Linked DNA regions of Homo sapiens. The protein of the gene in region 1 interacts with the protein of each later gene in a biochemical or structural test. Each region holds a gene or a part of one and is shown in the gene's direction. Other genes may lie near its edges.

The links.
Region 2: the proteins of MAP2K1 (region 1) and MAPK8IP3 form a complex in vitro, tested with the Homo sapiens proteins (one study listed by BioGRID).
Region 3: the proteins of MAP2K1 (region 1) and PEBP1 form a complex in vitro, tested with the Homo sapiens proteins (one study listed by BioGRID).

Annotation. Positions count from the first base shown.
Region 1 is NC_000015.10:66,480,912-66,484,511, forward strand, and holds part of MAP2K1 (dual specificity mitogen-activated protein kinase kinase 1), read left to right. Parts: intron 1-843; coding exon 844-968; intron 969-3,600. UniProt on the Homo sapiens protein: Dual specificity protein kinase which acts as an essential component of the MAP kinase signal transduction pathway.
Region 2 is NC_000016.10:1,757,996-1,761,816, forward strand, and holds part of MAPK8IP3 (C-Jun-amino-terminal kinase-interacting protein 3), read left to right. Parts: intron 1-152; coding exon 153-164; intron 165-982; coding exon 983-1,000; intron 1,001-1,962; coding exon 1,963-2,020; intron 2,021-2,384; coding exon 2,385-2,537; intron 2,538-3,228; coding exon 3,229-3,310; intron 3,311-3,821.
Region 3 is NC_000012.12:118,133,839-118,137,659, forward strand, and holds the start of PEBP1 (phosphatidylethanolamine-binding protein 1), read left to right. Parts: upstream 1-2,285; 5' UTR 2,286-2,371; coding exon 2,372-2,506; intron 2,507-3,821.

The DNA of each region.
Region 1 (3,600 bases):
TTACAGGACAGTTGTATGAATCAGAGGATACAGCGGAAGAAAAAATGTTTGGAAATTTAGGTCTCTGCAAACTAAGGGCCAATGTACTGGTATTTGTGACAGTGACCGGATGGGTGGGATGGGGTGATAATAAGAGTGCAAGGAAGGGGGATGGGGGCATCGTTTTGACTCTGAGGAGCAGCTTTAAGGCCTCTCACATTCCAGCTCCAGGTAGCAAGGGGTTCCCCTTGACTGGCAGGGTAGATGTACCTGTGTAGGCTGTTAGGTGAGTGACTCCAGTGGAATGGAATGGAATCATGACTCAGCTCCCACCCTGCCACACATATTTGTAAGAAAAAGACCCACATGCTCCATGCCTGGTGCAGAAGTCTAGAATGGGAATTCCCGCCAAACCCTGTCCCCTTCTAGCCTGTGTAGCCTCAGCAAGCAGATAGGTCTTATTACTTGTTTTTTTCTGCCTCCTTCATGATCCAGCCATAGATACTATATCTTACCAGTAGGGGTGGTTGAAGCAACAGACTTTGAAATCCTGACTGTTCATGATAACGGACTCCTTCCTGTGGATCATCTGGCCAAGTCTGCATTCTTAGAGAGTGGAAATCGACTGTCTTTCTGTTCTACTTCTACAGCAGCTGCTCATTTCATCTCCTGACAGTTGCTTCTTGAACTCAGAACAAAGGGCCTTGGTGTACAGTGTTTGCAAGCCAAGGGCTGCCTCTGATGGCGGACGGGGGTGTGGTCCTGGGACTCGTGGTCAGGGCTGGTCTGTGTGGAATGCTGATCCTTCTCTTCCCCAATCTACCTGTGTCAGTTCCCTCCTTTTCTATTTTCTCTTCCCTGCAGATGTCAAGCCCTCCAACATCCTAGTCAACTCCCGTGGGGAGATCAAGCTCTGTGACTTTGGGGTCAGCGGGCAGCTCATCGACTCCATGGCCAACTCCTTCGTGGGCACAAGGTCCTACATGTCGGTATGAACAGAAGTTTCCATTGCTTGAGCTTCTTGTACGGTCAGGGAGAGGAGCCCAGTGGGTGCCTTTCCTGTGGAGCCAGAGTCTTGTGCTGGGTAGGGGACAAGAAGTGAGGGAGGAGGCACAGTGCTCTGCCCTGAGGAGATGAAGTTGAATGGGAAGATGGTCTTGGTCTTTCTTAGGCCTTGGAGCATAACTGGGATATTGGGGCCTTGACTCACTGAAAGGACTGTCCAGCTCCAGAGTGTGGCTTTCTTTCTGAAGGATTGTGAGCTCCAGCTCCCCTCTGGGCATCTCTACATGATAGTCTTCAGATCCACAAACCCAGGATGCTCAGATATAATCCACCCCAAACTACCTCACCTTCTCCTTTTCTCTTAGCAGTAAATAGACAGCATCATCTCCCTGGTTTCCCAAGGTAGAAACCTGAGCATTGGCTCTTAACCTGCCTTCTCAGCAGCCCGTCCTTTCAGTATCTTGTAGCTCCCAACTCCTGAGAGTCTGTTCAGAATTGTCCAGCCTCTTTTCTCCCTCCTCACTATGTCTGTCAGACATGTACCCCTCCTTCTAACTGCAGCATACCTGGACCCCTCGCCAGAGTCTCTGCTCCACTTCAGCCAACACCCTGTGTTGAGGGTATTTCCTCCTGCTCCTGGCTCTGCTGGCTCACACTGTCACCAGAGCATTGTGTGGGGCCATCCTCACACTATGGCAGCACCAGCGTGTTTTCTTCCCTCCTCCATACCACCGGTTCCTTGGGGACAGGGACAAGGTGTCTCTCTTGTCCCTAGTGCCTGGCATGGGGCCTGGCATGTGGTAGGTGTTCAGGGAATGCTTGGCAAGTGGGTAGATGTTTAGTTGGCTGAGTGGGAGGGTACATGGATAAAACATTTCTGAGAATGATTTGGAAAGGTGGAAACGTGAGTCTGGGCCAGTGCTGAAGTGCGGCAAAGTGGAGGAGCGTTGGAGTGAGTAGGCAGTCTTTACAGAAGTGGCGGGGAGTGCAGGCCCGCGTGGAGAGGGGGACAGGCGCAGAGGCTCAGATCTTAACTTGTACAAAGCATTTTATGTGTTCTCTGTCAAAGCACATGTCATGTCCCTGGAAGGTCTCATTTGATCCATGTGGTTGTCCCAGGAAATAAAGATTATTGTTCCCATTTTAGAGGTGAGGAAGTCTAGATTCAGGGAGGTTAAGCAACCTGCCTACTTAACCTTGCTGAGCCAGGATTGAAAGCTAGCTGCCCCCTTGCCAGGCAGACGCCCTTTGCACAGCACACCCTCATTTGCCTCTTGGGGAGGATTTGGCACCTGTGCCCAGATCCCAGTGTGAACACATCCTCATTCCTTCTTGCTGGCACCTACCCCCCACTGTGACTCCAGCCACTGTCAACATCACTCACCTGGCACTGACCCACATCCCCACCCCTCCCCTCCAGTGACCCACAGTGGAACTCTCTTTCTCTGTCATCTCCTCATTGCTTCTTCCCTAAATGTCTAATAACTGAGCAGCTGGCATCCTGGGCCATTTGACTGCCAACTCTCAAGTTCAAAATCCATTAACAGGCCCTGGGAGTTACTAATCAAGGGTTTAATGGTTGGGGTTTTTGTGGTTATATGGTCAGTTACGAAATAGTCCAGTGTTGGAGTTAGTGAAAAATGCTACTGGAGAAGTTAATGTCTACGTGAATATACTATGGGCAGAATAAAGATTTTTTCGGTAGGGTTCTTGAAATACATGTGCTATTTCAAATAATGCTCATTAAAAATAATGCTTTTGTATAGCACTGTATACTTTTTTTCTCTTTGGCTTTTCCCACCAATATCAACCAATATTTGTATTGCATTTTACAACATTTGACATACATTTTCTTTTTTTTTTTTTTTTTGAGACGGAGTCTCACTGTGTCACCCAGGCTGGAGTGCAGTGGTGCAATCTCGGCTTACTGCAAGCCCTGCCTCCCAGGTTCACTCCATTCTCCTGCCTCATCCTCCCGAGTAGCTGGAACTACAGGCGTGTGCCACCACGCCCGGCTAATTTTTTTGTATTTTTAGTAGAGACGGGGTTTCACCGTGTTAGCCAGGATGGTCTCGATCTCCTGACCTTGTGATCCACCCACCTCGGCCTCCCAAAGTGCTGGGGTTACAGGCATGAGCCACCGCGCCTGGCTGTACATTTTCATTTGATTTGATCTTCTTAGTAATCCTAAGTAGAGTTTTCTTATATCATTGTTACTGTCATTTTCATCATCATCAGCCACCACCCCCCCCCACCTTTTTTTCTTCCGACATGGAGTTTTCGCTCTTCTTGCCCAGGCTGGAGTGCAGTGGTGCGATCTTGGCTCACTGCAACCTCTGCCTCCCGGGTTCAAGTGATTCTCCTGCCTCAGCCTCCCAAGTAGCTGGGATTACAGGCATGCACCACCATGTCCAGCTAATTTTTGTATTTTTAGTAGAGATGGGGTTTCACTATGTTGGCCAGGCTGGTCTCGAACTCCTGATCTCATGTGATCCGCCTGCCTCAGCCTCCCAAAGTGCTGGGATTACAGGTGTGAGCCACTGCGTCCCGGCCCAGCAGCAGCCCCATTTTATAGATGAGGCTGATATTCAGGATCTTTTAGCTTGTAAGTCCCGG
Region 2 (3,821 bases), on another chromosome or scaffold:
GAGGCTGCTCCCTCTCTCTCCTGCCCTGCAACATGGGAGCAGCCGAATCATTGCTGGGTTTTCTGTAATAAGAATGTATTGTTAGTTCCAGTCCCTAATTGACCTTTGTCCCTTCCTTCCCCTGCCTCTCTGTGCGTCGCTGGACTCGCCAGGGGAGTTCTCAGGTGAGTATCTCACTCTCCTGTCTGTCTCCCCTCTGTGTGACGGGGGGAGTGGGTGGACGGGGGATGCCCCGAGCTATCCCGTCACCGTGGCTGTGTGGACTGCCCCCCACGTCGCCGCAGCGCCTCTGCTTCTGCTCGCAGCCACCGCCGCTCGGAAGCTTGTTCGGTTTGCTCCACCAGCCACTTGACAATGACCTGGATATCCAACCCCCCCAGCCTGAGGAGTCCCCCGCGGGCCATTTCTGAAGGCCCTGCGGAGCCCTAAGCCACGCACGGCAGTGACTGGACATGGCCAAGGCCAGCTCTGGGGCCTCCCCTGCTGTCAGGCACACCCCAGAAGTCAGGGGTCCTTGAAGCCCCTACGAAGCCCAGCCCGGGGTCCCCTCCCCACGTGGGTGGACAGGCCGAGTCCTGCTCTCTGGCTGCACAGCAGGAGGCTCCGAGGCCCCACCCAGAGGCTGTCCAGATGCAGCCCCCCAGCCTCCAGGCACAGCCCATCCCCACAGGGGTGCCTTCTGCCCTCAGCCCCACCCAGCCCAGAATTTGGGGTGAGATGTTAGCTTCCTGCTCCACAGGTGACACTGGCCTGGCAGTCTTCATGTAACCCCAAGGATAAACTTTCCAGAAGGAATAGCTGGCTCCATCCCATCTCCTGCCCTCCTAACTCCCTCCTGCACCCACCCTAACCCAGCAGACCCAGCTCTGAATTCCTCCCAGCCTGCTGTCCACACGGGCTTAACGCGCTTCTCTTCTCTCCCTTTCTCCCTCTCCTCCCGCCCTGGTTGCCCATCTCCTGTGGGACGGGGACGGCTCCCTAGTGCGCGATGATTTCTTTGGTAAGGCTGAGGCCCCGTTCCAGCGTGCGTCGCTCCTCCACCCCGACATGGTCTCCTGCTTCATGAGCCGTTTGCTTTGTTCTGCATGATGGGGACAGTGTTGGGGCCGCCGGGGTCAGGGGGGCAGCCCTGAGTGAAGCTCGCTCTGTCCAGGCTGCCTCTGGGCTGTGGGAGGTGGCGACTTCCCCAAGGGACAGACTTGAAGGCCCGAGGAGGGCAGCCCCAGCCTCTCTGAACCCCACAAGCGCCGGGCAGACCCTGCCTGTGGGGAGGAAGGCCCATGTTTGAGGCAAGGGAGGTCATAATAGAGACAGCAGGCAGGACCCCTGAGCCCAGGCACAGAGGCGTGTGATGCTGTTTCATGACTGCATACACAGTGGGGGAGTGTGTGGGAGGGCAGGACCTTGGAGTTTCTTTCCATCCTTTTGGGGTTTCTGGGGCATGCTTGCAGGGAGATCAGTCCAGGTCCACTTGGGGCCTCGTGGTAGAGGAGCCTTCAGTCCTGCCAGGGAGCCCTGTCCTCACAGCCGCGCCCCATCGCCGCACCCCAGCCCTGCTGGCCCTGCCGTGAGGGCCAGGCCTCTCCTTGCCCACCTGTCCCCTCACCGCAGCTCCAACATCACTCGCCTAGGGTGGTGGCTCCGAGAGGGCCTGCCTGGTGACAGACCTGCTGGGGGCACTGAGATGGCAGCCCAGCGGCCATTCAGGGGCCTGCGTCCGGCCAGCTGGCCTGTGACATTGGTCGGACATGAGAACCACCCCAAGGCCTGGGAGCCTGCTCTGTGCACAGACTGCGGGCCCAGCATGAGCCCCGCCCTTCACGGCCCCCGCTCCCTGTAGATCGGGCGTCATCCCCAGCCAGGCTACCCTCTTTGGAAGCGTTGTTGCCCTGAGGCAGGTGCGGCGGCATCAGTGACCTGTTTTGAAGGGCACAGGTGAAACCTCCGCACCTTCTGTTTCAGGAATGGGCAAAGAAGTGGGGAATCTGCTACTGGAAAACTCACAGCTTCTGGAAACCAAGTAAGAGTGCCCTTCTCCTGTGTGGTGGGGCTGAGGCAGCCCTCCTTGTCAGGGCTGGGAGAGTGAGCCGGGCCAGAGGGCGCCTTGGGGAGCACCTGGCTCCAACGCCAGCAGCTGTCCTCATCTCTGGCGGGAGGAACTTGGAGCAGGACTCTGCCTGGTTTCTTTACGAAGCTTGTCTCCAGGAGCCTCTAACAAGGGTGCTATAGGGTTTAGCTAAGATGGGGATGGGGTCTCCCATTCAGCCACCTTCCTAACCAGGCTGTGCCTTCTCCAGGGCGGAAGTGCAGGCGCCCCTGGCAAGGCCCCTTCACGTACCTGTATGCCGCGCCCGTGGCACTCCCATCTTTCTGCTTTTTCAAAGAAACGCCTTGAATGTGGTGAAGAATGACCTGATTGCCAAGGTCGACCAGCTGTCCGGGGAGCAGGAGGTGCTGAGGGGCGAGTTGGAGGCTGCTAAGCAGGCCAAAGTCAAGCTGGAAAACCGTATCAAGGAGCTGGAAGAGGAACTGAAAAGGTGAGGGCAGGGCATGGAAAGCTGGTCAGAGAGGGACCCCGGCCTCAGGGCTCTGGAGTGGCTGCCTCCTCCAGTGCCTGCTCTCCAGCCTGAGCGGCTCTGTGCATAGCCTACCTACCTCCAGCTCCAGCTCACAGCCACTCCACCCCAACCAGCAGAGTGGGGCCGTGGTCTCCTCCTGAGCCTCCTACAGCACACGCTGGGCCTGTCTCACGCGTTCCTTCTCTGCACAGCTCCCACCATCCCACTCCTCCAGCCCTTTGATCAGCCAAGGTTTGGCCACGGCCCCCGGAGAGCTGTATGTTGGGGCTCCAGCCCTTCTCTGATGGACAGAGGAGGTGTGGGCGCTCCGAGACCATGCCTCTGCCTAAGAAGGGACCCAGATCTGCTCTGGGTTTGCCAAAGCCAGGGCCCCTCTGCTTTGCTCCCCCTCCGCATTCCCGGGCAGCCAGGATGGACGGCTGGGCTTCAGAGCACTCATGCAGCAGTGGCTCAGGGCCACCTGTCCCCAGGGAACTGGAAGAAGCGTTCAGGGCCCTGAACCAAACGGCTGCTGAAGGGGTCCCTGTGGGGAGAGCCCCCAGCCCTGCACAGAGGCAAGGACACAGGTTCGGGGCGGGCACTGCCCGCTATGTGTTCCCGAGGCCCCTGGGAGGCCCTCACCCTCCCTGCCTCCTTCCCCTTCCCACAGAGTGAAGTCCGAGGCCATCATCGCCCGCCGTGAACCCAAAGAAGAGGCGGAGGATGTAAGCAGCTATCTCTGTACAGAATCGGTACATCCACTCTTCACTCTTCACATGCGGGGCGTCCACCATTCACTTTTCACAGGCGGGGCGGCCACCGTTCACCATTCACACACAGGGTGACCACCATTCACCATTCACAGGCAGAGCGGCCACCATTCACCATTCACAGGCAGAGCGGCCACCATTCACCATTCACAGGCGGGGCGGCCACCATTCACCATTCACAGGCGGGGCGGCCACCATTCACCATTCACAGGCAGGGCGGCCGCCATTCACCATTCACACACAGGGCGACCACCATTCACCATTCACAGGCAGAGCGGCCACCATTCACCATTCACAGGCGGGGCGGCCACCATTCACCATTCACAGGCGGGGCGGCCACCATTCACCATTCACAGGCGGGGCGGCCACCATTCACCATTCCCAGGCGGGGCGGCCACTGTTCCCACACATTCACACGCCGGGTGACCACTGTTCATACGCATTCACACGTGGGGCAGCCATCATTCCCACACATTCACACGCTGGGCGGCCA
Region 3 (3,821 bases), on another chromosome or scaffold:
AAGACTTTTTTTATTTTGCTTTATTTTTGTAGAGATAGGGTCTCACTCTGTCGCCCAGGCTGGAGTGCAGTGGCACAATCACGGCTCACTGCAGCCTCAAACTCCCAGGCTCAAGTGATCCTCCTGCCTCAGCCTTGGTAGTAGCTGTGACTACCGGCACATCCCTCCATACCGGGCTAATTTTTGTATTTTGTTGTAGAGATGGGGTTTCACCATGTTGTCCCGGCTGGTCTCAAACTCCTGGACTCAAGTGATCCTCCTGCCTCAGCCTCCCAAAGTGCTAGGATTAGAGGCCTCAGCAACCGCACCTGGCCTGACGACCTATTTTTGATATGACTATTTTATAATGGTAGGATATAATGCAATCTTTTGGTGAATAAACAACAAAATCATCTATACTCATATTATTTTTAAATAGGAAAGATATACCCTAAATGATTACTGACGTTTATAACAAAGTAGTGGGATAGAAGGGGATTTCTACTTCTTTGGGTTTTTTTCTTTGATTTTCTACAATGAACTCGTATTATTTCCTAGTAAGAATGTAAATCAAGAGACAACTTTTTATTCCATGGGAGGAATTATCAATGTCAAGAGTCAAAACAGATAAGAACTGTTAAATAGTGCTTATTGGCTGGGCGCGGTGGCTTATTGCCTGTAATCCCAGCAGTTTGGGAGGCTGAGGCAGGCGAATCATGAGGTCAGGAGTTCGAGACCAGCCTGGCCAACATGGTGAAACTCTGTCTCTACTAAAAATACAAAAATTAGCTGGGCGCGGTGCCGCCTGCCTGTAATCCCAGCTACTCGGGAGGCTGAGACAGGAGAATTGCTTGAACCCGGGAGGCAGAGGTTGCAGTGAGCTGAGATCACGCCACTGCACTCCAGCCTGGGCGACAGAGCAAGACTCCGTCTCAAAAAAAAAAAAAAAAAATAGTGCTTATCATATTCAGCAAAAAGCAAGCAGCTTGTGGTCACAGTAAGAGCAGTTTTGGTATGAATAAATATGGTTTAAAATTGTTTTTCAAAAAACAAACATAAAAAACCAAAACCCAAACATTTCTCAGGAATTTTGTGAGGACGAATTTTGTGTGTGGAGAAAACGGACAAATACATTTCCCCATATATTTAAATGCTCAAAAGTTCACTCAGGTGCTCTCACCAGGCAATTACTATGACAAGTGATCACGTGCGAAAATACAGAGAATCTGGCTCGTTTTAAAGTGCAGGAGAAAAGCAAGGCCTTACTGTTTCTGAATTTGCTGTGTGTGTGTGTGTGTGTGTGTGTGTGTGTGTGTGTGTGTATGAGAAGATGGGATCTGGCTCTGAAGCGCAGACAGGAGTGCAGTGGCAAGATCGTAGCTCACCGCGGCCTCAAACTCCTAGATTCAAGAAGTGATCGGCCGGGCGTGGTGGTTCACGCCTGTAATCCCAGCACTTTGAGAGGCCGAGGTCAGGAGATCAAGATCATCGTGGCTAACACGGTGAAATCCCGTCTCTACTAAAAATACAAAAAATTAGCCGGGCGTGGTGGCGGGCGCCTGTAGTCACAGCTACTCGGGAGGCTGAAGCAGGAGAATGGCGTGAACCCGGGAGGCGCAGCTTGCAGTGAGCCGAGATCACGCCACTGCACTCCAGCCTGGTCAACACAGAGAGACTCCGTCTCAAAAAAAAAAAAAAAAAAAAGTGATCCTCCCGCCCCAGCCTCCGGAGTAGCTAGGACTACAAGCATGCACCACTGTGTCTGGCTTTTTTCTTTTTTTCTTTTTTTTTAAGTTTTCTGTAAAGACGGGGTCTTGCTACCTTGTCCAGGATGGTCTCAAACTCCTGGGCTCAAGCGATCTTCCTGCTTTGGCCTCCCAAAGTGCTGGGAATACAGGCATGAGCCACCGCGACAGGCCATGTTGCTGAATTTGGAAAGTGGAGCAAAGAATCATGCAAAAAATTAAGAAAACCAAAACGCAACCAAGGCGAATTCAATTGCATTTTTTTTTCCCAGCGACACTTTCTGAGACACGAACCTCTCTCTTCGGCGAACCTATTCCAGGGCGCCCTTCATTTTCATTTCTTGAAACAACAGCCTTGCAGGCCGAGCCGCTGTTCCCGAGAACTCGGCAGCCACAGGGAGCAGGTTGCATGGACCCAGGAGCGCGAGAGGCCCTGCTCTGCCAGCTTCGGCCAATCAGAGGCCAGGGAGCGGTGGGCGTGACGTGGGGCGGTGCGCGGGGCTGGGCGGCGGCTGAGGCGCGTGCTCTCGCGTGGTCGCTGGGTCTGCGTCTTCCCGAGCCAGTGTGCTGAGCTCTCCGCGTCGCCTCTGTCGCCCGCGCCTGGCCTACCGCGGCACTCCCGGCTGCACGCTCTGCTTGGCCTCGCCATGCCGGTGGACCTCAGCAAGTGGTCCGGGCCCTTGAGCCTGCAAGAAGTGGACGAGCAGCCGCAGCACCCGCTGCATGTCACCTACGCCGGGGCGGCGGTGGACGAGCTGGGCAAAGTGCTGACGCCCACCCAGGTACACCGGGCGGCGGGCGTGCAGCGAGCGGCACGGCGCGGAGGCCTGTGCCGGCCTCCTGGGTGGGACCCAGCGGAGACAGGGCCAGGGGCGGTGGGGAGGTTCAGCCTGCGTGTGTCGAGGCCCCCCCAGGCCAGAGGTCCCGGGGTCCATGTCCCATGCCTGGGGGCCACCCCGAGCACCGGGAACCCGGCCTGTGGCGTGGCCAGGCAGGTTCGGCCTGCGGCAGAAATTCATTCACTTTTCCCGGGCTTCAGACCCAAGAGGGACCTAGGTTCGGAAACAGGCCGGATCCCCCTCTCCCCCCACAGGCCAGGGCGCTGGAGAGGGACGTCGCCGGGACAGAGTAGGCTGTGGCTGCCCGGACGCCCCCAGAGCTTCCCCTAGGGCCTCAGCATTTTAGGCCTGGTTTTGGAGGGCTGAAGCCTCACCCGAGAGCCTGTGACGCATTATGTAACTGGCGATGAGCGCGCCGGCCGATTTCTCCTTTGTTAAATGGGTCGAGAGCGTCCAGCCGGTACGCTGGAGGGCAACGGTTTAGTTTTGGTCTTTGACCTCCCACGCCCACGGCTGGGGCTGCCGAAAGTGAAGAAACTAGATTTGCAGACGCCACTGCTAGTTGGTTATGAAGCTCCGGGCAACAGCGTAAAATAAACTGCCCCGACCTTACATTGTTTTGGATGTTCACAGAATTTAATTTTTTTGGATGTTTAAATATGTAGTGCCCATCTAACACAGCCTCCCTTTTCCTGCTCCCTGCCCGCCTCTCATCACCTTGGCTTTCTCCTTTTCTTTGCACTTTGAAACGTACAGTTAATGCAGATTTCACTTCAGCAGGCTCCAGGTAACCTCCTGATCACCAAATCCAGAAACGCTGTGATTCCGGACAGACAATGTAAGGGTGTCGTTGAGAGGGGACTCAGTGCCAGGGTTGGAATCCCAGCCTTATCTGTTTCTCTTAATAGTGTGCTGGGATACTAGCCCCATGGTGTTGTTGGGACTGAAATAATATACAGCCTGGGCAACATAGCAAGACCCCAACTCTACAAAAAAAAATTGGCCAGGTGTGATGGTGTGAGCATGTAGTTCCCAGCTGCTCAGGAGGCTGAGGTGGGAGGATCGATCGATTGAGCGCTGGAGGTTGAGGCTACAGTGAGCCTTGATAGCGTCACTACACTCCGGCCTGAGTGACAGAAGGAGACCTGGTCTCAAATAAAATACATAACGTATATAAAACTCCAGCTCCTGGCTCTTACAGTCAATACAGGGTCATTGATTTTATTAAAAATCTATTCTGTTTTGTCTTTGGAGAGTC